Homo sapiens: one gene and its partners. The protein of the gene in region 3 interacts with the protein of the main gene of each other region in a pairwise test. Each region holds a gene or a part of one and is shown on either strand. Other genes may lie near its edges.

Evidence for each region.
Region 1: the proteins of FCHSD2 (region 3) and CIMIP6 interact in a two-hybrid assay, tested with the Homo sapiens proteins (one study listed by BioGRID and IntAct).
Region 2: the proteins of FCHSD2 (region 3) and MNS1 interact in binary tests that used the Homo sapiens proteins (3 or more experiments, as listed by UniProt).
Region 4: the proteins of FCHSD2 (region 3) and SH3BGR interact in a two-hybrid assay, tested with the Homo sapiens proteins (one study listed by BioGRID and IntAct).

What each region holds. Positions count from the first base shown.
Region 1 is NC_000002.12:54,340,860-54,347,885, forward strand, and holds part of CIMIP6 (ciliary microtubule inner protein 6), read left to right. Parts: intron 1-2,860; coding exon 2,861-3,014; intron 3,015-7,026.
Region 2 is NC_000015.10:56,441,130-56,448,155, reverse strand, and holds part of MNS1 (meiosis-specific nuclear structural protein 1), read left to right. Parts: intron 1-1,212; coding exon 1,213-1,315; intron 1,316-2,272; exon of another isoform or gene 2,273-2,485; intron 2,486-3,482; coding exon 3,483-3,712; intron 3,713-4,301; coding exon 4,302-4,518; intron 4,519-4,618; coding exon 4,619-4,726; intron 4,727-7,026. UniProt on the Homo sapiens protein: Microtubule inner protein (MIP) part of the dynein-decorated doublet microtubules (DMTs) in cilia axoneme, which is required for motile cilia beating.
Region 3 is NC_000011.10:72,838,319-72,845,344, reverse strand, and holds part of FCHSD2 (F-BAR and double SH3 domains protein 2), read left to right. Parts: intron 1-1,604; exon of another isoform or gene 1,605-1,812; coding exon 1,813-1,896; exon of another isoform or gene 1,897-2,016; coding exon 2,017-2,194; exon of another isoform or gene 2,195-2,503; coding exon 2,504-2,724; coding exon of another isoform or gene 2,725-2,728; intron 2,729-3,761; coding exon 3,762-3,891; intron 3,892-4,385; coding exon 4,386-4,468; intron 4,469-6,470; coding exon 6,471-6,554; 3' UTR 6,555-7,026. UniProt on the Homo sapiens protein: Adapter protein that plays a role in endocytosis via clathrin-coated pits. Contributes to the internalization of cell surface receptors, such as integrin ITGB1 and transferrin receptor.
Region 4 is NC_000021.9:39,447,043-39,454,995, forward strand, and holds the start of SH3BGR (SH3 domain-binding glutamic acid-rich protein), read left to right. Parts: upstream 1-4,927; 5' UTR 4,928-5,054; coding exon 5,055-5,099; intron 5,100-7,953.

The DNA of each region.
Region 1 (7,026 bases), on a different chromosome or scaffold from region 3:
GAGGCTAAGGTGGGAGGATCACCTGAGTCCAGGAGTTTGAGGCTGCAGTGAGTTGTAATCGTACCACTATGCTCCAGCTTGGGTGATGGAGTGAGACCCTGGCTCAAAAAAATAATAATAACAAATAATAATAATTAAAGTCCATCAGCCATTTCCTAGTGGTTCGCTTATCCCAGAGCCATTTTTCCAGTAACTTGAGTATTAGCAAAATAAGTTTTTGATCAACAAAAGTAGATGATATGAAGTGTTTGTGTATGCTTTACAATCTTATCACAGAAGAACTTTCTCAGAATATTTACTGCTATGGTTTGAATGTTTGTCCCCTCCAAACTCATGTTGAAATGTAATTTCCATTGTAACTGTATTAAAAGGTGGGACCCTTAAGGGGTGACTAGGTCATGAAAGCTCCACCCTCATGAATGAAATGAATGCCATTATAAAAGGGCAAGTTTTGTCCCCTGTTGCCCTCTTTTTGCTCTTCTGCCTTCCACCATGTGAGGATGCAGTGTTCAAGGTGCCATCTTAGAATCATAATTACCAAACCTGCCAGTGCCTTGATCTTGGACTTCCCAGCCTACAGAATTGTGAGCCAGTAAATTTCTGATCCTTATAAATTACCCAGTCTAAGGTATTCTGTTGTAGCAGCACAAAACAGACTAAGACGTGCACTTACAGCCTCTATTTTCACTTCTTAAATAATTTCATTTGGTTTGTACTTAGCTGGTTTTGCATTCCACAGCAGGTTTGATACAGCAGTGCAGCACAGAAATTAGAGGTGTGCACAAAGAGGTTGGGGTTTGAATTGTGGCAGTGCAGCAGTCTGCTGGTGATATATCTTGGGGAAGTTACTTCATCTCCTGGCAGTTTTCTCATCTGTAAAGTGGATGTGCCTGCCTCATAGAATTGTGATGAGCTTATATAAGTAAGACAAGACCTATAAATCCTAGACCTTGGGGTGTAATAAGCACTATTATAATTGTGAAGTGGAGTGGAGAAGAGCTGCCAGAAGCAGGCGCTCTGACAACAGTAAGATGTGACTATTTTCAGCCAGATAGTGAGAAGACACCATCTGTTTAGTAATCTGTTCTAGAATTTTCCTAGGATCTACATCAAGTAGTCTTAATTTTTTAAATTCACCTTTTAGCCCATTCTGAAAAGTGAAGCATTAGCCAATCTATTCTCCAAAATCCCCTAGTTCCTAAATTTCTGTAATCTCTGCAGAAATTACCCCAGTTACAATTACCAATTATTCCATTACTCCTGCTTACAATTTGTCATTGGCCTAAAAACTGGCACTCTTATAAAGTGACAAAGTGAAGTCCAACTCTCTCATCAGCTCTTCAGGGCTTAGTTCTTTGGTATGTGTTCATCCCATCTTTTTCAAGTTAACTGTAATTTTCCTTAACAACCTCAAGTTGAATGAATAGTTCTGACTTTCCTGAACCAGATTCTTCTCTCCAAACTGTTAGCCGGAACACAAAAGATAACCTTTTTTGGGGCTGTAGGATTTCACTCAGCTATGAACAATTTTTTCTAGAAAACATTATTTTTGCTGCCTTTGACAATTGTATAAATTATCAATTTGTAAAATTTTATAAATTTATAAATGTCTTCTAAGTTTCTTGACAATCTTCTGACAAGCTGACTCCATTAATTATTTTTTAAATCTAATGTTGTATATGTCTTTTATACATGCCTGTCTTTTTAGAAACTAAGCTCATTTGAGAGCTGACTCCCTATGCAGCCACATAGGTTTTTTTTTTTTTTAAAGAAACATCTCCCTTTTTGCATCAATGTAGCCTTAATTGTATTGTCAGTATTTTACCTATTAGAATTGCATATTTATCCCCCTTGAATCATAGTTTAGAAGTCTTTGGCTATGGAACCATAGTTGATTTTCAAAAGGCAGACTTGCTTCCTTATAGCCCACGGTAGGTGTTTGATTATACCGGAAGTTACTTTCATATCCTAACTGTATTCCAGGAACTCCTAGGTGTCATAGGGTTTCTCAAGCATTTTCTTACTACCACCTAATCAACCAGTTTTAAAATATTTGGTCAGAATTAAGTTGAGTAACAGTTCCCCTCTCTACTCTCTCAACTTCCAAGAAATCAAATTGTCATACATGCTAATGAAGAATCTCAGTTTTCCCTTTCTTGTGTACTTAGGTTTTAGTACCAAAATTCAGTAACATTAGAGAGATTTCCCCTTAGAACAAAGTTTATCAAACTGAGTCATTAGTGAATGACAAATCAATGAGTTGCAGTCAGCAACGTGAAATGAAATAGGAAAGCAATAAAATAGAATAGAAAAATAGTTAAGCACACTGCATATAGTAAGTATTTTGTGAAACTTTTGTTTCAGTTTTATGTATGTATAGCATTGTGTGCTCTTGTATGACATAAAATGTATTTCATGGTTCAGGCTAGGGACTAAAACTTCTGAAAACCACTATTTTTAGATGATAATACATTATTTGTATTGTCATAATGAAAAGATTACAACATAATTTTTTAAATTAAATATTTTATACATACACGTGTACATATATAATAAAATCATAGTATAAAACAAATACAGCTATTTTGCTGATTTTTACCACTTCATTTGTTGATAGAAGGAAGGTAGCTTAAGAATTCAGCAGCTGTATTTTAGCTAAAAATTTGACAACTCATTTTCCAGTGCCTTCAAAGAAATACATTTTTTGTGAAAAGATATTTCCAGATTTCAGAACTCCACATTAGTACTGGGATATCCACTAACTTGTTAAATTGAATTACTGAATATCCATAGACATCAAGCAATACATGAAAATGCCCTACAGTATCCAATATTGTGTTTCCAATTATTTTCTATAAAGGGTGACTGGTGGTCACATGGTAAAGCACTGGAACCTGTCTTCCTACCACCTTACGACTCTAAGAGCACCCAGAGGAGTGACTTCCAAAAACCATCGTGTCCACTGGTTTTGCCAGTCAAACACAGCAAGATGCAAAAGCCTTCTTGTGGAATAGGTAAGGTTTTGCAGTGGTAAAAACCTTTTATGTTATCTCAAATTATTGCTACCAAAACTAAGATGTATTAGATGTCCGGACAGCTCCTGAAAATAATTACTTCTCTATGAAGTTGAAAATACACACACAGCAAATACAGCCCTTGGGAAGTTTGTTATTTCTTCCTAGTGGACAGTTTGTCTCCAAATGCAGTTAATATGACATAATGAAAATTGTATTGATCATTAATAACACCAGCCTCAAAGTCAGAAACTTAGTAGCATCCTGCTCATTGTTGTTGCCACCACATTTTAAGAGTTGTAACTATTGTCACTTCAAGGAAGGTAGCTGATGAAGAGGGCTATTAGATAATCTGTAACAATGACTTGTCCTTTAGAAAGATAATAAAGTTTCCACTTCTGGTTCAGGATAGCAGACTGAGCACACATATCTAAATTCCCTGCCTTCCAAGACCCTATTACTATAAATAGTAGCAAAGCAATAAACTCTTAAGAGTGAAGAGAATAGAAGGAAGAACTTTCTGGAACGTAGCAAAGACTAGAAGCCTATTGATAGATAAAAGAGAATAAAGAAGCAATTTCTAGAAGGAGATGCAGCAAAGAAGAGACAATCTGCCTGGCCAAAGCCCTGACTGAGCTACACGCCGAGCCAGCAGGCATAGTGGAAGGCAAAAATGAAAAGCGGGTAGGAGAGAGTCAGAGAGTTACTTCAAAGCCTGTCCCTTAAATAAAGGCTCCAGTCATGAGCACTCCACCCTATCCCAACATTAAGACTACTAGAGCCCAGTGTCTTAGCCAGATGTCAACTACCACACCAGTTATTTCGGTAAATCAAGCTGATCCCCCGTCCCCTTCTTATAAATGGACAACCAAAGATTAGAATTATGCCAGTTAAAAAAAAGATTTGGAGAATAAAGTCACGGAAGTATCACACAGCATAAAACAACAAAACAAAAGCTTGGAAAATGAGAAGGAAAGCAAAACAGAAGATCTGTTTGGGAAATCCAACTTTTCTGGAGCTCCAGAAAAGAGAAGAGTAAAAATGAAGGTAGATAATTAGCAAAACATAACATTTATTGAGCACATACTATTTGCCAGGCACTTTATGGAACTTTCTAAATATTAACTCATTTAATTCCCACATGAACTCTATGCAATATAATAGTGTAGTAATACTATTAATATTCTTATTTTTCAGATAAGAAAATGTAGGGAGGCAAAATTATTTTTTAACATTTTAGTGTTTTTGGCTGGGCTTGAGAATTAAATTGACACAAAGATCAACAGGAGAAAAGCATACAAATTTATTTAATACAAGTTTTACATAGCAGGGGAGCCTTCATAAGGAAATGAAGACCCTAAGACACAGAAAGAACACATATACTAAATTGGACAAAGAGTAGTACATTGTAAAAATGGGACAAGGCAAAGGAGTTTGGGCTAGGGTAATTGGGTAGAGAAATGACTAGGAAGATAAGGGTGAGTTTAACAAGGTTTACTTGTCTAGATTTCCCCTCACCTCAAATTCCTGTGCTTGGTAAGAATGATGCTTTCCTTCTGGTATAGGGAGGATATCTTTTACGTAGGAATTTCATCTCCTGCTTTTGAGAAAGAGAAGGAAGGTCAAACTGTTTTTCTTGCATCTGCTGTTTTTCAAGTGCCTTTAACTCAATATAGTCAATATGCCAGAGTGGCATTTTAGAGTAGCATGTTCTGAACTCCTTTGAAAGCAAGCATGGAGTTGAAATAACGTGCCCAAGGCTAGAGTGAATAATTGGCATTTGCACCCAGCTAGCCTGACTCCAGTGCATATACTCATAACCAGTACTGTATAGTACTCTACACAACCTCTAAAATAATAACAAAGTTTCCCTACATAAAATGCATTAAAAGGGTCTACTGGGTGCTTCTAAGTGTGAAGGGGAAAAATATGCACACCCTACATATCATTACAAAATTGCAAAACAGTCATCATCAACAGAAGATTCTAAAAGTTTCCATAAAGGGATAGAAAAATAAGTCACCATCTAAGAAATAAGTATCAACATGGAATCAGGCAGCACTGATGCAAGAGTACAATGGAGTTAATATCTTCAAAGTTCTCAGGGGAAATACTTTTTGACCTAGAAAAGGGAATTTATTTGGCACGGATACTAAACCATTTTTTTTCAAGTGGCACTGGGCATTACACCCACTGAGAAGGAAATGAAGTCCTGGCACAACATTTGACCCTTAAATGAACAAAATGTATGTAATTATGTAATACTATGCATGCTGTTTAGTAGTTTTCAACTTTTAGGCTCAATCTATAGACACGAGTTTAAATATGGTTACACAACAGAATGTATCTTAGCAGCTTTAATAAGAAAAGTAAGTGCACAACTGATAGAAGATGAGAAGTAGAAGAGAAGAAGGGTGCTAACATCATTATTTGCAATATAGGTAATCAGTTGATACTATCCAGTGGGGGTGAAACAAGGAATAGATGTTTAAGGTGAAAGGTCAAAGGAACCAGTCTAAAAACCAAATTTCTCTAACCCTGGCTTATTTACTGAGCTTCAAGTTCACATATCCAAACACCTACTTAACATCTCCTCTTGGATAGCTAGTCACCTTTTCAAACCTGATATGGCTGGAATAGAATGTTTCATTTCCTCCATCCAAACTTATCCTCCACTAGTCTTCTCCATCTCAGTGAATGCCACCTCCACTCTCCCACCAGGTGTTCAAGTTTTGATAAGCTAGAAGGCATTATAAAACTCTCTCCTTTCACTCCCTGCCCCCACATTCAATCCATCAGCAAATTGTGACACCTCTATCTCCAAAATAGACCCCAAATCTATTCCTTTCCATCTTCACTGTAACCAGTGCAGTACAGCTGCTATTACCCTGCTTCCTTTCTTCTTTCTCCATATATGTTTTCTGCATCATTGTCAAAGGATCTTTTTAAAAACACATGTGATATTCTCCTCCTTTAGATTCTCCAGTTACTTCTCAACGTTCATAGAATAAATTTCAAATTCCTCACTATGGCCTACACGGCCCTTTTTGATCTGTCAAATTTACCTACATTATCTTCTATTGCTCATAATGTGAGGATTTAGAGACAGAGAATATAACTCAGACCAAGGAGGTAGAGACACTCTCTGAAAGTTAAGCTTGTTTCCAAACCAGATTTATGTCTATGTACTTGTTACTGTATTTCCATATTTTAATTATATATTCTTGTAAATTAAAATCTGAATAAGAAAAGAAAACAGTTGTTTCTATAAAACATTCAAAATTGAATGTACAGACTTGATAAAAGGTCAATTGCTAACTTTAAAAAATGCTACTTAGGTATAGGCAAAATAACTAAGAGGAGTTGGACTGAATTTTTAAAATCTTGAAGGATTTTGCATTCATTTTGCTTGAAATTTGTCTTTACATTTTCATTCTGTGTGAAAGAAATAGAAACTGGAAATGATGCATTAGAAGTGTGGTTTGTACAAGAAACACAAAGTGGAATTCCAGTCAGTGGACACCTCCTCAAAGAAAATGGCTTGGCATGCCAATAAAAATTTGATGAACTGGTTAAAATATGTATCTACATATGGCATATGATTTTTTGCTTTAACTTTCTTTGGTAGCCAACCAGTCCCTTCCACATAACGAGCAGTTATGGTACTTCAGCTACTCAAGTTGAAGGGATGTAGAAGAGTGGTGAAAGATGACACTGGAGCGATGGGCTTTTTCTGGGTTCATAAGGCAGGGCTCAGTCATTTCATAAGGGATCCCCCAAAATCAGGGTCTGTAGATCTACTTAATTTGCCCAGAGAGAAATCCTCCAAACCTCTGCCTAGGATGGAGGACAGAAAATCCAGGAGTCCCATAAGCAGTCCTCTGCAACATCACCTTGTCCCGCTGCCCCATGCTCCCTGCCTCAGAGGTATGTGATGCCTCCCGATTCCCAGGCACTCCTGGAATGCTGTGGCATTAATTGGCTTAATTTTTACCCCATTCCCTTCCCCCAT
Region 2 (7,026 bases), on a different chromosome or scaffold from region 3:
ATCCAAGAGAAATGAAAGCCTGTGACCACAAATAACTGGTACTCAAATTTCCATAGCAGCTTTATTTGCAATATCCACATACCTGAAACAACTCAAATGTCTATCAGCATGTGAATAGATAAGCAATGCGAGTGGATATCTATAATCTTAAAATAATATCCTGCAATAAAAAGGAGTAAGCAATTACTATATGCAATAAATGGATGTATTTGAAAATATTGAGTGAAAGAAGCCAGAGAAAAATGGTACCTGCACTATGATTCCATTTATATGAATTCTAGAAAATTTATACTGCCTAAGGTGACAGCAAATTAGCTTGCCTCAGGATAAGTGCGAACATAAAGGGGTAGAAGAGAGGTACCACAGGTTTATAAGGAAGTGATTGGGACGTGTTCATGATCTTGATTGTGGTGATGGTTTCACAGGTGCATACATATGTAAAAACTTATCAAACTGTATCCTTTAAACATGTTCAGTTTATTGAATATTGTAGATCAGTAAAACTGAAAACTAAAAAATATATTCAGTGATATTGTTGGGTATAAATTTAGTATATAAACATTAATTGTATTTCTGTAAATTATCAACAATTAGAAAGTGAGATTTGAAAAATAATCTACAGAAGGATATGAAAAATACCTAATGAAAAGTATAAAACTACCAAAATAAAACACAGATATAAACATCGATAGACTTTTAAAAAACCAAATAATTAGAAGGATATACTATGTTTATTGAAGACTCAGTAATGTAAAGATATTAGTACTTTCCAAATTGATTTATGAATTCAGTACTATCACAGCCAGTTTTGTTTATTGTGAAGTCTGACAAGCTGATTCTAAAATGTATATGGAAATGAAAGTATCAAGAATGGCTAAGACAGTCTCTAAGAAGATGACCAAAATTGGAGACTTATCCATGATATGTAGACGTATTATAATTTACAGCAGTTGAGATAGTGTGGTATTGACACAGGATAAGCAAACAGATGAATGTAATAGAACAGAGCAGTACTTTTCAACCAGAAAATGTAAGCCCTAATGCCCTAAAGGCATCCATTAAATATAATGAATTATTTCTCCTATGGATCTAAAATAATACCCGCTGTATTCCCTCTTTGAGTAAATTAAAAATACAGTTACTCAGTTTTCTGTGAGGTTTTCATTCTCTTATGGTCCTAACATTTAAATTTGTTTTTGTTTTTTTAAACAGCATTGAGCTTAGAGAATTGGAGAAGAAATTAAAAGCAGCTTACATGAATAAAGAAAGGGCAGCTCAGATTGCTGAAAAGGATGCCATTAAATATGAACAAATGGTAATCATGTTTCTGGTCATTATGTTTTTAGCTTCATTTAGAAAATAAAAATTAGACTTGTTTCTTAAAAAATTGTCATATTGTATAAAGAATTTACACTGCTAGATTTCTTAAATATTTGTAAATTTTCAGATCCTTAAGATGTAGAAAATCCTGCGTGATTTCATTTTTAATATTAGAGCCTTTCAGAAACACATTGCTGCTTAGAATGACCAGCTATATTCAGTAACTCCCAGCATTCTTTATAGTCTCTAACTGATTATTCACTGACAAAGTAGTACAGTACAAATTGTTACCATGATAAGTGTATTTTAGAATGTTATGAAATTTTTAATTATTTAAATGTTTTTAAGAGTAAACTACTTGATAATTTTATGTAGGAAACTTTCCAGTTTTATAAAAGCCATCTCTTTTTCTCATGTTTCTCTCTGCTTTTATCCCCTTTTCTAACTCCTGATATGGTACCAAGTTGAAGATAAGAGTTACTCTTGGGCAAAGGAATCTCAGGCATACTCACTAGGAGTGCTTTGCTGTATGAATATATAATAGGGTTTACTGAATTAACAGTTAATTAAAAGGGTGCACATCATCCCTTGAGCTCTCATTATCAAACAGAAGGGCCAATTATATATGAATGTTTATATACACATACATATCTATTGTGTATGTCCACATAAACATATGTACACACACACACACTCTTATGGGGTGATATCAAAATACTTAACCAGTGCAGTGCAATATGGGTATCAATTAAGAATAGATACCATAAATGACACATATATGTGTGTGTTGCGTGTGTACAATTGTGTTAGTATAGAAAATGTCTAGCGGGTACACAGCATGCTGTTAACAGGAATACCTTTAGGTGTGGCAGGTGATAAGAAAAGGTGGAGAGACTTCATTTGCTAAGCCATATAGCGCTGTCCTTTGAAAAAGAAAGTAGCACAAACAATGTCCTGTTTGTCCAGTGGTTTGCAGTTTTAATTATCCTGATAGTTGAAGTTATTCAAGGTAGTTGTAGACGTTTTAATCTGACTCCTACGAGAATTGCTGCTATTTTCCAAATAAAAATTGATCCACAAAATGAAAGTCGAATACTACTAGGACTTGACTAGGTGTCATGCAAGTACTAGTTTTGGCTTTTTCTCTGAGCCTTAGTTTTCTTATCTGTAAAATGAGAACATTGTTTTCGGTAAGTGTGTGGTAATCTACACATAAATGTTATTGTCATCTCATTTTTTAATAAAGAATTTAGTATAGCATGTACAAAGAAGATAATCAGAAACATTTTTGGTCAAGTCATATTATCAGAGTATATGTTAAAGGCTTCAGTGACGTCAGGAATGACATTCAGTATTCATATTTTAATCTGTTTACTCTTTATGTTTGATGCTGCTGACCATTCCATCATTCGGGATGTGATCATAAAAGTAAAGCGTAGTTTAAAAAATTGCCTCAGTATATTTCATTTAAAACTTATTTTATTAAATGATTTGAAAAATGCTCAAAAGAAATAAGGGGTTTAACCCATCCAAGAAGAAAGATTGTCTCTTGACAATGGGAATGGTCTTGAGTGAATTAAAAGCTGTAGAAAATAGGCACAGTAGCATCTGTGATTCTTTTCAGATAAAGGGCCTTTAATAAATCAGAAAGGGGAAACGTCAAGGGCCAATGGCAGGAAAGAAAGTTTAGGCTAGGAGAAACTTAAGAGCTGCTCAAAGCCATTTAATAGCAGACCTGTAAGAAAGAGGCAGTACCATCTTTAAATAGCAGCTGATAAACAATGAAGCTAAAAACGATGAAAATTGCCTAGCTCAGTTTATAAATAGAATAATAAGATAATGACTGCTTTAGCAGCTAAATAGTTATTAAGAAACTACTTACAATTGTATTCATTGTTTTTTGAATGTGGAGTTATTAATAATCCTTATCAGGTATTGTCCTGAGAGAGCTACTTGAAGGGATAGGAAAGCTGCTTTAGGGTCTGACTTATTGTTCACACCCTTCAGGTAATAATAACTTACTTTTGCTTTTTAACCTAGACAGATGAAAAAATTTATTTTATGTAAAAGACTTTATAATATTCAATAACATTGGTGTAAAATATACTATCGTACTATGTTCAAATTTGAAAACGGAAAGATCAATTTTGTTTTAATAACAGAAACGTGATGCTGAAATAGCCAAAACCATGATGGAAGAACACAAGAGAATAATAAAGGAAGAGAATGCTGCAGAAGACAAACGAAACAAAGCGAAAGCACAGTACTATCTTGACTTAGAGAAACAACTTGAAGAACAAGAAAAAAAAAAGCAGGAAGCTTATGAGCAGCTGCTAAAAGAGAAACTCATGATTGATGAAATTGTTAGGAAGATCTATGAAGAAGATCAGTTGTAAGTTTATCCTAACTTTCTTACATGTCTAAATGTTTACTTTAGATATATCACAGGTTTGTTGTGAGGAACTGAAGCACCTAGAACAGTGCCTAATACATAGTAAGTGCTCAATAAATACTAGCTATGAAAACATAAATTGGGACCAACTCCTTCTCATCTCCGTTAGCATAATTAATAAATGAATTATCTGATGATTAATAAATGCTGAAGTGATTGAATGACCTAAACCTTTGTTTTTCTTATATATGCCCATATCATATGTCAGAGGACAGGTATTCTGATAAATTTTTTTGGTAGACAGCTTAAGTATAGAGTGCTGCAAAGCTAATGTTAACAGATTGTAGCCTTTATGAAATAAGATGCATAAAACTTCATTAATAGGTTAGAGGAGACTATCACAGTATTCTACCCAAAGAAAAATTCATACCTGACATTATATTTAGCACACAGTAAGCATTCAAAATGTTTGTTGCATGCACGAATGAAAAAACTATAGTGTTTTTCTGTACATTATTATGAACAAAATGAAATTACTTTTTTATATTTTATTGTTTACTATAAATCTGTACTTGTTATTGCTTTTCAGGGAAAAACAACAAAAGTTAGAAAAAATGAATGCAATGCGAAGGTATATAGAAGAGTTTCAGAAAGAGCAGGCTCTCTGGAGAAAAAAGAAACGTGAGGAGATGGAAGAAGAAAACAGAAAAATCATAGAGTTTGCTAACATGCAGCAGCAAAGAGAAGAAGATCGGATGGCAAAAGTTCAAGAAAATGAGGAGAAAAGGCTACAGCTTCAGAATGCGGTATTAAAATAACCACTTCTTTAACACTAGTAAAATTCTGAAATATTAGTTACAGAATTTGGATCCTATAAATATTTATGTTTTTTAAAAAATTTAATAGTTGACACAGAAATTAGAAGAAATGCTGCGGCAACGTGAAGATTTGGAACAAGTGCGACAAGAATTATACCAGGAAGAACAAGCTGAAATATATAAGAGCAAGCTAAAAGTAAGTTTCAGAAATGGAAAGAATGATTAATGTAGAGAAGAATATAATTTTGAGATGAAGCAGAAAAGAGATAGTACATTTAAATCCAACCATACTGGTAATTACATTATATGTAAATGGTATACTACAGTTAAAAGACAGAAATTTTCAAGCTGGCTAAAAAGATAGACTCAGGCATCAATTTATAAACTTACCATAAAAAGCATGATGCAACTATGTTGTCTGTAATCACAATTTAAAAATGAAGATACATACTTTAAAAGCAAAAGGATGGTGAAAGATACGTAACATACAGACACTAGTCAAAAGTAGGTTGGAGTTGCTACGTTAATATGAGACAAAGTCAACTTCAGGACAAGCAATTCATGATAATACAGTAAATTCATCTAGAAGATGTCATAGTCCTAAAGGCGTGTGAACCTAAATAATAAAGCTTCACAATACATGAAGCAAAACTGACAAAAACTGAAAGGAGAAAGAGGCAAATCCACAATCAGAGTTCAAGATTTTTTTTTTTTTCTTTTTCTCTTTCCAACTTTTACTTTAGGTTCAGGAGGTACATGTGCTGGTTTGTTACAGGGGTAAATTTGTGGGTCATGGGGATTTGGTGTAACATTATTTTGTCACCCAAGTAATGAGCATAGTACTCGATAGGTAGTTTATTGATCCTCACCCTCCTCCTATGTCTACCCTCAAGTAGGCCCCAGTGTCTGTTTTCCTTCTTTGTGTCCACGTGTACTCAATATTTAGCTGTTACTTGTATGTGAAGACATGTAGTATTTGGTTTTCTATCCCTGCATTAATTAGCATAGGCTAATGGCCTCCAGCTCCATCCATGTTGACGCAAAGGATATGATTTTGTTCTTTTTTATGGCTGTGTAGTATTCCGTGGTGTACATGTACCACATTTTATTTATCCAGTCCACCATTGATGGATATCTAGGTGGATTCCATATCTTTGCCATTGTGAATAGTGCTGCTATAAATACACACATGCATGTGTCATTATGGTAAAATGATTTATATTCCTTTGGGTATATACCCAGCAATCCCATTGGGTATAAACCCAGCAATCAAATGGTAATTCTGTTTTCATTTTTTGGGGAGTCGCCACAGTGCTTTTCACAGTGGTTGAACTAGTTTACATTCCCACCAACAGTGTATAAGCATTCCTTTTTCTCCACAACCTTGTCAGCATCCATTCTTTTGTGACTTTAATAGCCATTCTGACTGATGTGAGATAGTATCTCATTGTGGTTTTGGTTTGCATTTCTCTAATGATTAGTGATATTGAGCACTTTTTCATGTGCTTGTTGGCTACATATATATCATTTTTTGAGAGGTATCTGTTCATGTACTTAGCCTATTTTTTCTTTTTATTTATTTATTTTATTTTATTATTATTTTTTGAGATGGGAGTCTCGCTCTGTCGCCCAGGTTGGAGTGCAGTGGCGTGATCTCGGCTCACTGCAAGCTATGCCTCCCGGGTTCACGCCATTCTCCTGCCTCAGCCTCCCAAGTAGCTGGGACTACAGGCACCCGCCACCATGCCCGGCTAATTTTTTTCTTTTGTATTTTTAGTAGAGATGGGGTTTCACCGTGTTAGCCAGGATGGTCTCGATCTCCTGACCTCATGATCCACCTGCCTTGGCCTCCCAAAGTGCTGGGATTAGAGGTGTGAGCCACCGTGCCTGGCCAGTCTATTTTTTAAATAGGGTTGTTAATTTGTTTACGTTCCTTAGATATTATGGATATTAGACCTTTGTCAGATGCATAGTTTGCAAATATTTTCTCCCATTCTGTAGGTTGTCTGTTTATTCTGTTGATAACTTCATTTCCTGTGAAGAAACTCTTTAGTTTAACTAGGTCCCACTTGTCAATTTTTGTTTTTGTTACAATTGCTTTTTGAGTCTTCATCATGAAATCTTTGCCAGGTCCTATGTCCAGAATGGTATTTCAATGCACAGTTCTCATTAATCTATAGACTAGGTAGTCAGAACCGCAGGATATCGTATTGAAAGCAATATCAATAAACTTGACCTGACATTTAGAGAATACTCCACCCAACAACAGCAGAACACAAATTCCATTCAAACATGGAACCTTCACCGAGATAGATCATATTCTAGGACATAAAGGAAGTCTCAATAAATTTTCAAGGTTTTAAATAATACCAGATATGTTTTCTGACTACAGTGGAATTAAATTAAAAATCAGTAATGAAAATATACCTGCAGACTCCTTAAATATATTATAATTAAACAATATATTTCTAAATAAGCAATGAGAAAAGGGGAATA
Region 3 (7,026 bases):
GATTCAAGTGATCCTCCCACCTCAGCCTCCCAAGTAGCTGGGATTACAGGCACGTGCCACCACACCCACCAATTTTTTGTATTTTTCATAGAGACAGGGTTTCGCCATGTTGCCCAGGCCGGTCTCAAACTGCTGGCCTCAAGTGATCCACCCACCTTGGCCTCCCAAAGTGCTGGGATTACAGACGTGAGCCACCTCACTCAGCCTCTCCATAGCTTTTTATAAGGGCAGCAGTTTATTTAAAAGTGTACTACCTCCCTGGTTTGCTGTCACATACATTAACGTCTGGTCGTGTTGATACTTTTTAGGTCTTGCCATGAAAAACATTTTTATTACAAAAATGCCTTTTGCTGGCATATTCAAGGCATAGTGTGGTTTCAGAGTAGTGAAGGAATTCCATTGGAAAAGCTATCAAGGGTAAATGAGTGGGGTTTTTTCCTCAATATTATTTTTCTGTCTCAGGGAGCTATGGCAACATCCAGAATCTGGATTTTGATGAAATGTTTTAATGTTCATAAAATGGGAAATTGATCTTGAAAATGACCCCTTTTTTGCCTTATTTTTGTTTGTGTAACTTGGAGTTAATTTTACATTTTGAGATTGTGAGATTTTAAAAACTTTATGGTTTTAGGTGATGGTTTTAACCCATCTTGGGACTTGGGGAAAGCTTTTAAGACTGTTTTCTAGAGAGCCAGAAGCCAGCAGGCCCCTGTCTATTACACATGACAGGCAAGACTGTTAGGAAGCAAAGCCACACGGACTTTCCAGCCCCTCTGTGGAGCCTCAGAGCGTTTACAGATTTGGCAGTCTCAAGGGCAACATGTGGGTGGCTGATGCTGGTGGATTGCTGCTGTCAGGGATAATAAAACCATTATGGTTAGCAGCTTGTACGGTAGCACGCAAATGGATCAGCTCAGTCTCCACACAGTTAAGTTGGAGCATAAGAAATCCAAACCATGACTGATCTCAATCATTTCCTTTCCTACAATTTTTTTCTTTTGGCCACTGCTTTACAGTGATTCCAGATCAATCCTAGGCACTGCACCCACTATCATCAAATTCACGTACATAGTTCTTTGCATTTTCACTGCATGCTTGTCCATGGGAGCCCTCTGGTAGCAGTTCCAATTCAGTGCCTTCTCGTTTGCCTTTGCTTCCCAAATCATCACAGTTCTGTGCTTATCCATCCCACATTGACTCACATCCTCCAGAAAATGGCAGGATTGTCATTTCAAAGAAATGGAGGCATCAAGTTGAATAACTTGATACAGAAGCTGGAGTTGGAACCCAGGTCCTCTACTTCCAGGAAGTGCTCTCTTTTTTTGTTTGTTTTTTTAGAGACAGGGTCTCGCTCTGTTGCCCAGGCTGGAGTGCAGTGGCTCACTCATGGCTCACTGCAGCCTCAACCTCCCAGGCTCAAGCGATCCTCCCACCTCAGCCTCCCAAGTAGTTGGGACTACAGGCATGTTCCACCATGCCTGACTAATTTTATTTATTTATTTACTTATTTATTTATTTATTGGTAGAGATGGGGGTCTCGCTGTGTTGCCCAGGCTTACATGTTCTGTTCATTGAACGTCATTGCCTCTTGAGGATTCAGTTTCTTGAGTTTTTGTTATGGTTTTATTCTGTTTAGTTTTTTAAAGTAAAACTTCACCTCATTATGAAAGTTTTACAGCATTTAAATTTTTATGTTCAACATGTTTCTCAAAATCATTTCAATATTTTGATCCCCAGTTTTTGTCATGATCAGCTCACATCTGCTCCTTATCTAACCTTTTTAATTTTGTCCATGACCATCCTACACTGCAGGCTTCTCAACCAGATGAGTTGACCATTGAGGAACATGAGGTGTTAGAAGTGATTGAAGATGGAGATATGGAAGACTGGGTAAAGGTATATTCCTTTGCTCATATCGCCCTTTCTTGTGACATTTTTAGGAGTTTGTTTTGGTCTTTGTTGTGCCCTGTCTAAATTGTGTGTGTAAACTTGTTTTGTCACATGTCTTTTACCCAGGCTCGAAATAAAGTTGGCCAAGTGGGTTATGTGCCAGAAAAGTACCTACAGTTTCCCACCTCGAACAGCCTCCTGAGCATGCTGCAGTCCCTGGCCGCTTTGGACAGTCGGTCACACACGTCCAGCAATTCCACGGAAGCAGAACTCGTTTCAGGCAGCCTCAACGGAGATGCCAGTGGTAAAGACTGAAACAAGGCACTCTTTATTTGGTCACGTTTGACCTAAACTGTATTGCCCTGGAGTAAGCCTTCAGTAGGATAAAAAGCACAACTTTCCTCCTGTCCTATAATATGCTTTTCTTTATATGGTCACGTTTGTCCTGCACAGTAGAACCCTAAAGTTAATCATTCATCAGTGAGTAAAAAAATTACAACTTTAATCCTATTCTGTATGATGCTCTTTTAGTTGTCATGTGAGCATAGGGGTGGTTGCAAAAGCAACCGGCTGTTAATTATCTTACCAGATTTGTTTTTCTCTTGCTCCCTAGTATGTTTTGTGAAAGCACTTTATGATTATGAGGGCCAGACAGATGATGAGTTATCTTTTCCTGAGGGAGCAATAATCCGTATCTTGAACAAAGAAAACCAAGATGATGATGGCTTCTGGGAAGGGGAATTCAATGGGCGTATTGGAGTTTTCCCATCGGTGCTAGTGGAAGAACTTTCAGCCTCAGAAAATGGTGACACTCCATGGATGAGAGAGATTCAGGTACCTGAGAGGGGAGACAGTTGAATTAAAAGATGTTTAAAGAAAATTGCTCCCAAAGGGTCTGTGGATCCACACAAAAGTGGGCTGCAGTCTCTGCCTTACCCTCACCGGTCCTTGGTTGCCAGTGTCTGCACAACTGCATTTGGGAAACCAGAGACTTGTCAGTCAGTCCCTTGTGGAATGTGGCCATCCTCCCACACCTCCATCTTCCCACATTCTCTCTCTTCCTTGAATTGGTTAACCAAAATGCCAAATTATATGTGACATACCAAAGATCGTTTTGGTGGAGAGAAAGAAACAAACCGAAGAGGGAAGGCGTTGCTCTGTGGTTAATTTACGTAGTAAAACTCTTAGCTGGCTCTCTCTCTCCCTCACTGTCAGAGCCTCCTTGCCTAGTCCAGGTCCTGCCAGTCTATTTCAGAGAATTAATGAGCCTGCCAGAGCCCCTAATCCCCACTCAAGTGACCCTAGACTTAGTTCATCACAGGGAAACAGCCTTTAAAGGAACCTCTAATTCAGTCAGAGTTTAGTTTGTCCCCTCAGGGATCTATCACTGCAGGCCAGACAGGTAGAGGAAGAAGGAACGTGTTTGCCGATCTTGTTTGCGTGGTGATTGTGACCCCTTAGCCTAACATGCACAAAACCTGGGGAAGTCAGAAATTCAGCAAAGTATTTTATCTTCACCCCAAAAAATCCAACTTGTTCCTTTTGTTGTTGTTGTTCTTTGCTAAGTTTACTGAATTGACTAATTTGGTACATTTTCAATAGAACCCTAGAGAGTAGCTTCACTTGATAACTGTTTAAGATAAACTAAAATCAGTAATGTGATGAGATCTGTAAGAGGAAAAAGTGAAGTGCAATGCAAAATTGGAGCTTGAGGTGGTTATTTAATGCTCAGTTGCCTCTAATGAGGTTGACAAGTTTCAACAATCAGCTTAGCTTTAGAGAAAAGGCATGAGTACAGAGCAGTCAGAGAAGCAGCCAGGCTCTCCTTCCTGGAGGGGAGCACCGGGTAACCTCGCTTCCCTTTGCTGCAGATCTCTCCTTCCCCCAAGCCACACGCCTCCCTGCCTCCACTGCCGTTGTACGACCAGCCTCCCAGCAGCCCCTACCCCAGCCCAGATAAGAGGAGCTCCCTGTACTTTCCCCGGTCTCCTTCAGCAAACGGTAAGGGTTCTCCTGGGCATGGGTCTAAATGCATTTTCACTTCAGAAACCTACATATTCGCCTGAAGGGCAAAAAAAAACTGCATTTGCTTTTTTTTTTTTTTTTTTTTTTTTGGAGACAGAGTCTCTGTCACCTGGGCTGGACACCCAGGCTGGAGTTCAGTGGCATGATCACGGCTCATAGCAACCAATTCCTGGGCTCAAGTGATCCTCCTGCCTCAGCCTCCCTAGTAGCTAGGAATACAGGCATGCACCACCACACACAGCTAATTTTTGTATTTTTTCTGGACAAAGGGTATTATTCTGTCACCCAGGCTGGAGTGCAGTGGTGGGATCATAGCTCACTGCAGCCTTGAACTTCTGGCCTCAAGTAATCCTCCCGCCTCAGTATCCCAAAGTGCTGGGATTACAGGCTCAAGCCACCATGCCAGCCTTGCATCAGCATTATTGCTCAACAACTCAAGTAAAATGAGCTTCTTTGGTTTTCTCCCTTAGAAAAAAGCCTTCATGCTGAGTCACCAGGATTCTCACAGGCATCAAGGCATACTCCTGAGACCTCATATGGCAAACTGCGACCTGTAAGTCTCTGATCTTGCAGGATTATCGAATGCATAGTTCTTCCAAATTGAAAGTAAGGAATTAATGTTTCCCCGTGGCCCCTGTGTTGTTACTGACTATGCCAAACAAGGATGAACTGGGTTTGGGAAGGTAAAAAGAGCTATTGAAAAGGAAGGCCATAGAAATCAACTCATCTCGGGACATTTAATCTACACTGGAACTTTTTTCACTGAGCCACAGTGAGATTGCAAGATGATGGCTATGAAAGTGATTTAGAATAGAACAAACTTTATGAGCATTAAAGCGGGCTAATTGTGAAACACTTTTTTCAGTAAGCATTTAATTTTCCAGGCCTCTATTTGCCTCTTTGAGGAATACCAAGATGAAATAATAAGCTAACTTCATGGCCTTAAAGAGCGTTTATTCTCCGGGTGAATATATTATTGCAAAGTTACCTCTCCTCACCCTTCACTCTACTGCCATCTGCATTCCACCCACCACTGTACTCCAAGGTCATAACTTGCACGGTAATCCAGTCGGATACTTTGCAATTTTATTTTCCTTGACCCCTATTAGCTTTTGATACCATTCCTTTACCACTGGCTTCTTTTGGCTTCATTCATTCAGCAAATATGTATTGAGTGCCTTCTTAAGGACTTGAGTCTTTATCCCAAATGAGACAGGAAGCCATTGTAAAGTGGTAAGCTGGACAGTGTTGTGGCTGGTGCATTTTTAAAGCATCGCTATGGCAGCTAAGAGGCGGATGGATGGAGGGTGGCAGAAAGGATATAGGGAGCGATTAGGAGGCTGGAGCAGCATCCAAGAAAGAAGTGGTGGCAAGATGGACTGGTGGGTAAGAGTGGGAAGAGAGAGCAGTGGGCTGATGTGCTTCTCTACATTTGCCTCGTTTGCTTTCTTCCTCTCTGGTCCTACCTTTCTGTGGACCTTTGCAGCCTTGCCGCCACCTGTCTCTGCTGATAATTCTCATGGTTCTGTCACTGGGCTGCTTCTCTTGAAGTTGTTGAACGCACTCTTGCCGAATGACCTCATCTACTTCCACAGCTATGATAACCATTTATATGCCAGCAAGTCTCAGATTTATAACTGCCAATCCGATCTCTTCTCTTGAGCTTCAGATGTGTGGATATCTCAGTTTATATATCCCAGATCCCCAAAACTCAGCAAAAATGAGTTATGTTCCCTTCCAGACATGTTCCTTCTCCCATATTGCCTATCTTGGTAAATGGAACCCCCATCCTACTGGTGTTCTGGCATCATTCTTAATACCTCCTGCCCCTGCCTCCCACAGTCATTCCCAAATCCTGCCAGGTATACCTTGCAGAGAGCTCGCAAATCTTTCCACTTCTCTACTTCCCCTACTGCCAGTACCCTCGTTTGGGCTATTGTCAACTCTCATTCAGAGGATTACAAAAGTCTCCTAAGTTGCCTTCTTACTTGGACTCTTGCTTGCCTCTGATCCTTTCTCCAGTTGTTACCTGAGTCATCTTTTCGCAGATCTGATATTGCTTAAAATCCACCAAAAACTCCTCTTTTGCCTACAGAATAAAGCACAGATTTATTTTTTTCTTCTTAAAGCAGATGTTTAAACATGGTTTAACAAGGCCCTTCACAACTTAACCCTAGCCTACCTTTCTAGCCTTCTCTTTTGTAACTCTCTACCCAAGACACACTGAAATGTTTCATTTCTCTAAGCATTGCTCTCCCTTGCTTCCAGCCAGACCTTTGCTTTGGAGGATGTGCTAGGATCTTAGTCATAGGACTTGTGCCCATGAGGTTTTTAGCCTAGGCAAGAAGCTGATTTGTGGGCTTGATATTTCATTGAGAACAACTGCTTCTCAGTGTAGGAAATAGTGAAGACTAGGTTGAAAGCACGTGCTCACAACATTTCTGAGACCCCTAGGGTGCCCATGTCCTTGGACAGATGAGTGATTAGGTTTTGGGGATGCTTCAGATACTGAGTCAGGAACTGACTGACAAACTACGTAATTGTTTCCTGCTCAGGTCCGGGCAGCTCCCCCTCCACCTACACAGAATCACCGAAGGCCAGCAGAGAAGATTGAAGATGTGGAAATCACACTGGTGTGATGATGGGCTTGCCCATCCATTACTGCTACAATCAAGGCCAGGCTTGGAGTTTGGCCAGTCTTGTTTTTTAGGCACCTTTGCATGATGATGACTCTTGAACAGAGCAAAAAACAAGGAGGATTATGTGTGACTGGGTGGCCTGGTAGACTCCTCCCACGTTTTGAATATTTCGTGCCTTTTTTTTTTGTTGTCATTTTCTATGTCATTTCTCCTACCATAGCACAAATCCTAGCGGACCCTAGGAGCAAAGAGGGGGGCAGCCCTCATGCCTAACAGTGGTCTGTTTTTATATGAGACTCAAGAACAGGCCTCATTCCAGGGCACAGTCCCTAAATTACTGATCATGTGCACTCGTACAGTATATTACTGTGACCACAAGGATGTGGCAAAGATTCTCATCTTTCTTCAAGTGGCTTTTGCTCATCTGATTGAGAATTAATCAGATCATGTTGGCTACATAAGGAAACAGAAG
Region 4 (7,953 bases), on a different chromosome or scaffold from region 3:
TGGTGGGCCATGCATTTCTAGAACTCCTTAGGTAGGGAATTATCCGTATAAGATGGGTGCCGGTTGTTTTTGCTGGTGGTGGTGGGCGGGGCAACATCTCCAGGTAGGCAAACATTAGACAAATGTCACTCTAGACTTGACATTATGGAAAGATGGGCTGATGCTTGGTGGGTGGTGGTGGCCCCATGACAGTAACGAGAGCGGAGTTTTGCCATTGCGGGAGCATCCAACCCTGGAGCTCATGACTGGAGGAATTGAAAGGTAGAGTTTCCTGAGAATGGTTTCCTCCTCTTTTCTACCAGCTTTTCCCAGTCTGTAGACATGATAAGTCACTGCAAATCTGCCCTTGAATCTTTCTTTGCTTTCGCTTTTGCTTTTTTTTTTTTTTTTTTTTGAGACGTATCACTCTATCGCTCAGGCTGGAATGCAGTGGCGCCATCCCAGCTCACCACAACCTCCGCTTCCTGGGTTCAGGTGATTCTCCTGCATCAGCCTCCTGAGTAGCTGGGATTACAGGTGTGAGTCACAACACCCGGCTAATTCTTTTTGTATTTTTAGTAGAGATGGGGTTTTGCGATGTTGGCTAGGCTGGCCTTGAACTCCTGACCTCAAGTGATCTGCCCGCCTCGGCCTCCCAAAATGTTGGGATTTCAGGCATAAGCCACCGTGCCTGGCCTTTGCTTTTGCTTTCGAAGGGGTGTTCTTTTCTGTGTACACAATGGAAGGAGAAGAGCCATGGCCTTTCACTATTCTGGGGCCATCTCCATCATGCCACATAAAAAGCATAGCCTTTATTTCTCTATATTAGGTTCCTAGGTTCCTAGGGATGTCATAACAGACTACCACGAACTTAGGGGCTTAGAACAATAGAACTTTATCTTCTCACATTTCTGGAGGTCAGAAGTATGAAACCAAGTTGTCTGAAAGTCCATGTTTCCTCTGAAGGCTCTTAGGGAGAATTTTTTGAGTCTTCCAGCTTATGGGGACTCCTGCTATTCCTTGGCTTGTGGCAGCACCACTCCAATTTCTGCTTCCATCTTCACAGGGTGTTCTTCTCTGTGTCTCCCTGTCTTGTCTTCTTATAAGGACAACCAGTCATTGGACTTAGGGCCCACCCTAAATCCAGGATGATTTAATCACAAGACCCCCTCAACTGATTACATCTGTAAAGACTCTATTTCCAAATAAGGTTACATGCTGAGGTTTGGCTGAACATGAATTTTGGTGAACAATATTCAACCCACTACAGTTATTATGGTAATCATTTCCATCATTCTACATAATAAAGACGTGTCTTTATTTGTCATTTTAAGTTATCTGTAAAGTTATGTAAATCAAAACATATCATCTGGTATCATTTATCATGAGATCATCTGGGGGTCTCTATGAAGTTTGTAGCCCAGTACCTCATGTCTTTAAATCAAAATTAATCAAATCAAAAAGTGATGTTATTTGACTTGTTAAAATATACTCCAACAGACGGACAAAATGAACTCCTGTTTCCTAAAATGAGATGCACCAAAAACAGAATGTCCTACTCGGGAGGCTGAGGCAGGAGATGAATGTGGGAGGTGGAGGTTGCAATGAGCTGAGATCAAGCCACTGCACTCCAGCCTGGTGACAGAAACAAACAAAAAACAAACAACAAAACAAAACAAAACCTCCAGAATGTCACAGCCAGAAGGATGAGGGGTTAGTTACGTATTTTTGCATTATTAACTGCTATTAAGTAAGCAGAAACCAGCTTCGAAAAAGCATAGCCAACACAACTTCAGCTGGAAAATTTCCAACTGACCCCGATAGACTGCCTGATGCCAGCCAATGGAAACATTCCCTCCCTCAGTATGCGCCCCCACCCCCAAACGCCTTGCAGACCTACTACAACTCCAGTTGGACAAAGGACTGGTCTTATAAACATTCTTTATTGATAAACAGCTGCAGACCTCCAGCCAATTTTGGCCAGCTTATAGAAATTGCACATAAAATGTCTTTGTGCCCTATAGTTCACCTGTTGATATAAAGAGCCAAATTCCATCCCATTTTAATGCTAGAACTCCACCCCAAGGTGAACATGGAATGTATGATACATATATGTTTACCCACTGCACACATGCCTGAATTTCCTCATAAATATTAGTAGATCCTCTGCAACCTTGCTCAGTATGTATGTAAGGCTGACTCTGTAAGACACAGATACCAGCTCCTTCCTCCCTTCTGCAGCATGTGCATTTTTGGTTTTTTCTGTAAGCTGCATTCCCCAATCTGCAGGTTGTATCTCCCCCTAAAAATAAAATCTCCTTTCCTTCCTCCGTGGATCTCCTGGTCTTTGTGAACAGACATAAACAGCAAGCACTGGAGATGTTGAATGGTTGGCTGCTTGCATCTTCACTAAATTATACACCTTCTTTCTGAAGTGGATTTTGTAAGTCAGGGGTTCATTGAGCTTTATTTTAAGATGCATTTGGAATGTTCGCTATTCCTGTTAATTATGTTGAAGCTCGTTTGTGTCATTAGTGTAATAATACATTAGAAGGAATCTTTCAGCTGGAGTTTTCAGATTTTTAATTTGTACATTTTTATGGTCATTTCGAAAAGAATAAACTTAAAAAAATTCATAGTGAAAAGGGGGCACTAGGAATTTGAGGGTAGCATCTCAGGAGCTTCTCATGTGGTGTGGAGAGGAATGGGTGAGGCTTAAGTCTTGGATATGCCATTTCCTATTCCCATCATCTCTAGTTCTGTGTCCTCATGGTGAGTGGGCATAATAATGGAACACAGTTTTAGGGTTCTTATACAGGTTAAGGGAGTGGCTTATGCAAAGCACCTAGAGCAGATCTGGCACATGGACAACACCTACAAATTGTTAGCTGTTATTTGAGTAGGAAATTAATTTCTCCCCAGGGTTTGCAGATGGAGGAGGTGTCATTATTGAGGGCAGTTTTCACCTGATATAATCAAGAGATGCGTATTCTCTAGAGCACCTGAGAATCCAGCTATAGTTTATGCTACTAACTTACAAAGTCATTAGAAAATATGCCCCCACTTTCTTCAAGTAATATTTGGAGAAATATGGCATGCTTATGTGGCAGACTTTAAGGTGTGAAAATATATAATTGTATGAAAAAATAATACGTACTGTAGAAATTTTGAAAATGCAGAAAAGAAAAACTGATCTGTAATCCTTGGTGTGCTTTAAAATAAAATTTATAATTCTACTGACTTAAATTTGGGGAACCATTAATCATCTTCATCAAGGACCTTATTTTTGGAGCAGCTAACTTTGCATGTTGAAGCCAAAAGTTAAATGTTGGTAGTCACCTCAATCATTCATTGTGATGTAGGGGCATTTAAGCGATATTCCAGGAACTGGGATATTCCGGGGACTGGGATGTCTTTTCTCGTTGCAGGCACCTACCTGAGGGGGTGGGAAACATGCCTCTGGGGCTCTGGGACTCAGGTGAAGAGGGAGTACAGAAGCCTGGGAGATTCCTCTCTGCTTCGGAACGTCGGTGCCACCCAATCCATGATGGGCAGCAGGGGATTTTAAAAAGGGAGCCGGAGAACAGAGAGAGAGAGAGACAGTAAGAGACTCAGTTATCTAAGCTAAATATCCCCCAAGTGCTTCTTGAAAAACTAGCCCTTTGTCCCTAATGCCCTTGATCTTGATTTTGAAATCTATCAGAAGAATTTGCATAACTGGCATTTGGGCTTCTTTGCTAGATTTTGTATTCCTTTAATTTAATTTGTTTGTTTGTTTGATTTGGTTTTGTTTTAGAGATAAGGTCTTGTTCTGTCACCCAGGCTGGAGTGCCGTGGGTGTGATCATAGCTCACTGCAGCCTCAAACTCCTGGCTAAAGGGCTCAAGGGATCCTTCCACCTCAGCCTTCCAAGTCGCTGGAAATACAGATACAGGCGCCTGCCAACATGCCTGGCTGTTTTTTTTTGTGTTATTGTTGTTGGTAAAGTCGTACCTCAGTATGTTACCCAGACTGGTCTTGAACTTCTGGGCTCACACAATCCTCCTGCCTTGACCTCCCAAGGTGTTGGGATTACAGGTGTGAGACACTGCCCCGGACCTTCTCTAACTTTTAACACAATTCAAAATACCTATATAAATATTAACATGTATAAACACAAATATATATAAATAAACACAAAATACCTATGTAAACAAAGAGCCTGTTATAAACAGATTATTTTGGTTTTTTCCCCAAGCACTTTAAAATAGTTAATAAACTTCAAGTCAGTGACAAGTAAATAAAATAGTGAGACAATTGGCTTGTTGCAGCCATGAGTATTGAGAAGCCAGCGGCTATTTCCCTACCTCCCTGGATGTCAGTGAAACTTTAGATGGCCCATGGCTGGTCAGTTTCTGTTCTTTAGGAGAAACAGGTGGGAAAGAGAGCACACTGGAAACAGCCACTCTTAAAGGCATTTCTATTGTATGACAGTTTACTTAAAAAATTTTTTTTAACCTGCCAGGAAAAAAAACAAAGTTGCTCTTTACTTAAAGGCCTCTGTGGCTATTCTGACCCTTCCAGTTTATTTGTTTGCCAAAAGCCCTTTAAACCCAGCCTCCTCCTAGACTGAGGTGGTGTTTTCTGGGCTTTTCCAGCTCCCAAGAGCTCCTCCCTCACTTCTTTCGCCTCCTGCTGCTCTGTTACCGGGGCCCCACCTCCCTTGGCCCCAAGGCATCTCTGCACAGGTCTCCGATTGGTGCACAGCACAGCCTGGCCTTTTAGGGACTGTTGTCGCGCGTTTAAAGTGATAGGGAAAGGGTCCAGTGGCTGCTTTTATCGACCAATCAAATATTTTCCTGACAGATCCCAAAATATTCCTGGGCCAATGGAGGGAGGAGCCCAAGATGCCTCTGCTGCTCCTTGGAGAGACAGAGCCTCTTAAGTTGGAGCGGGACTGCCGGAGCCCAGTGGACCCCTGGGCTGCTGCCAGCCCCGACCTGGCACTTGCTTGCCTGTGTCACTGTCAGGATTTGTCTAGCGGCGCATTCCCTGACAGGGGTGTGTTGGGGGGAGTCCTCTTTCCAACTGTCGAAATGGTTATCAAAGTGTTTGTTGCTACATCTTCTGGGTCCATAGCGGTAGGTGTCTGGTGGACTCTTTCTTCCTATACTCTTTTCTGAATAACTTAGGGTTGGAAATATGGCCAACGTTGGCCTTCAGTTTCTTTTTTGCGTGTAGTCAGCTGTGGCTCTGCAATAAGTATGTGCGCCCTTTGCTTTCTGCATTTGATTTCATAGTGTTGAAAAAGCATGGAAAGGGTGTAATCTGGATGGCTGGGTGTGAAAAGGGATTCGAGTAAGGAGGCGTGCTTGACACTAGAATTTTTAACATGTGATTTGTGTTGTGTTGCCTTGTGAATATCATAGAAGCAGGGACTTTTTTGTATGTGTTTCTGCCATTCATTCTGCAAGGCTTAAACTAATTTAAAATTGTAAATAAATGATACTTTGTGTAACACTGTTTGGAGCGGATGATGAACCAGATTGCTAAAATGACTCTGGGGTGTAATCACTTGTATATGCCATGTAATGATGTAACCATACTGAAAGTGTAAAGTTAGCATGTGTAATCCATTGTTTGAGGAAAGTGATGTCACAGTGACCAGAGCAGACATCTCTCAGGCCACAGTTATAAACACTCCAGGCATTCAGACGGCCCCAAAATAAGAGCTGAAAGCCGACCTTCATAACCAGTGCTTTGTCTAATTTTCTTGAGACCATCTACCTCTTCAATTCTGGCCTTCATTCTGTGCAAGCTGGACCTGCCGTAAGAAATAGGGGTGATGAAGTGACACATTTCTCTTTGGAAATGGGTCAGACTTTGATTTTAGGCTTGAACCTATATAGTGTCTGTCTGTCTGGAACTGATATTTCGACCAGCATTTTAGCAGCAGTTAGGAAGGCTGTGGAGAGAAAAAACAGTTTTATTAAACCCAAGAGTTAGAGACCAGCAAGGCGGCTGTTCCTTTTATATCTAGTTTCTGGAGGATCTCAGGTTTCGGCTGGGATTTCAGCAGCCACTCTGCCAGAAACAGTACCCAGAGTAAGCCATTGGCTGGGGTGACAGCCCCAAAGGCAGCCGCTGAGTGCCACCACTCCCAGCCCCGAAAGTTCATGAGGTTTCCAGAGAGGGTGAGAAGAAAGCAAGAGAAAATAGCTTGGCTGTCCCTTTTGCTAAGTACAACTGAGCAGCTATTGTTTTAGTGATCTCTAGAACAAATTAGCCGAAAAAGATGAGAACACACTCCAAATGTGAAACTCTGCGAAATCTTTTGTGGCTATTGATGACTGCTGAAACTTTCAGTTGATCTAGAAGGAGTAAATTTTTTGGCTATTGGATAAAAAAATTTTTTTGGGGGGGAAAATGGTTTTGGTGGGCTCTAAATACGTTGTTGATGCTCATTGCTAAAAACTTTACCTCTTACCAGCCAGTCCTCTATATATTCTGTAGACCTGGTCTACATATTCTTCAGAAGACAATCAATAAGTTAATGGATTTTTAAGGTTTATTTGATGTCCTGTGTTCTTGAAGTTTGGGCCCATAATTTAGTTAGCTTTGGATGACCTGGAGAGGCAATGTTCATCCCAGGGTCTTGGAAAAGCCATTAGTTTTGGTTCCCTAAGCAAATGTTTCAGTGCCACTTGTAACTGTATGACCTTGGGAAAGTTATTTCACCTTGTTAAGCCTCAATTTCCTTGTCTGTAAAATGAGGATAAGAATAGTGCCTACATCATAGTGTTGTCATGAGGACTGATGAAATGATGTGCGTGGGTGCCCCGCATGGTGTCAAGTGTTTATCAGCACTCAAGAAATATTCTAATGATTAGTGAATGTTATTTATACTTACTAGCTGCTATTAGTTAATATTAGTTGCTACTATAATTGTTATTATTAGTTAGTTAATGAATATTAATTAGGATTTCAGTTACAATTATTAGTTACTATAATTATTAGCTAATATTATTTAGTAGATCAGGGTCTATGATCAGTATGTGTGAGAAGAATTTTCCAGAACCACATACATGAGAGAATTTCTGCCTTAGCCGTAAGAATGAGAATTGATTATCCCTGCGATGTCAGTGCTAATGATTTTTCATGGGTAGAGAAATTTCACTCAAAACTTCTTGGCAGGAAAACCCTAGAGTGGCTTCTTGTGCCCATGCTACTGTGTGGCAGTCAGTCTGCCAAGCCTTTCCTACTTATTTCTTCAGCCTGTACATTTAAAAAATGGATTCTTGCCTGATACCTCATCAGTAAGGGCATTCTGACTTCTGTTGGTTGAATGAAATAAATGAGAAAGGAAAAGCAAATTGTAGTCTCCTTATGAGGAATTAAATACATGCAGCTGTGTATTACATCTCAATTTTAATAGTTGACTTCAAAGAGCTGTGGCACATTTTACCACGTTCTGGACGGATTTGGGTTAAGAGACCCTGGGGAGCAGGAGAGGGCGCGTGACTTCTTCTAGGACCCTCCTCTCTTCCAGAAGGCCACAGTGGGGCAGGGGGGACAAAGGGAGAGAGGACAGTCCCTGCCGTCTCCAAGATGCACAGCCCCTGGAACCGATCTTTAAGGACAGACCCTCATAGTGGCTCTTGGGCTTCACAGTCCTTTCTCCATTTTGATTGACAGTGTAAATATCGTGGGAAAAATATGACTCTTGAATTAGATCGTTGAGTGTCATTCTTGGAAAATTCATTCATTTATTGGAGCCTCAGCATTGTTATAAAATAGCCATCCAAATACCTACCTAGATGGCCCGTGTGACAGTGCACTGGGATGGTAGTGTGCTATGTGGTGCCTGACAGTGCAGGTTTTCAGCCTAAGGTACAAAATGCTTTTCCATGCATCATCTTCTTCAGTTCCCACCAAAACACTGTGAGGAAGGCATTGTTACATCCAGTTTGCAGATGAAGAAATTGGAGATCAGAG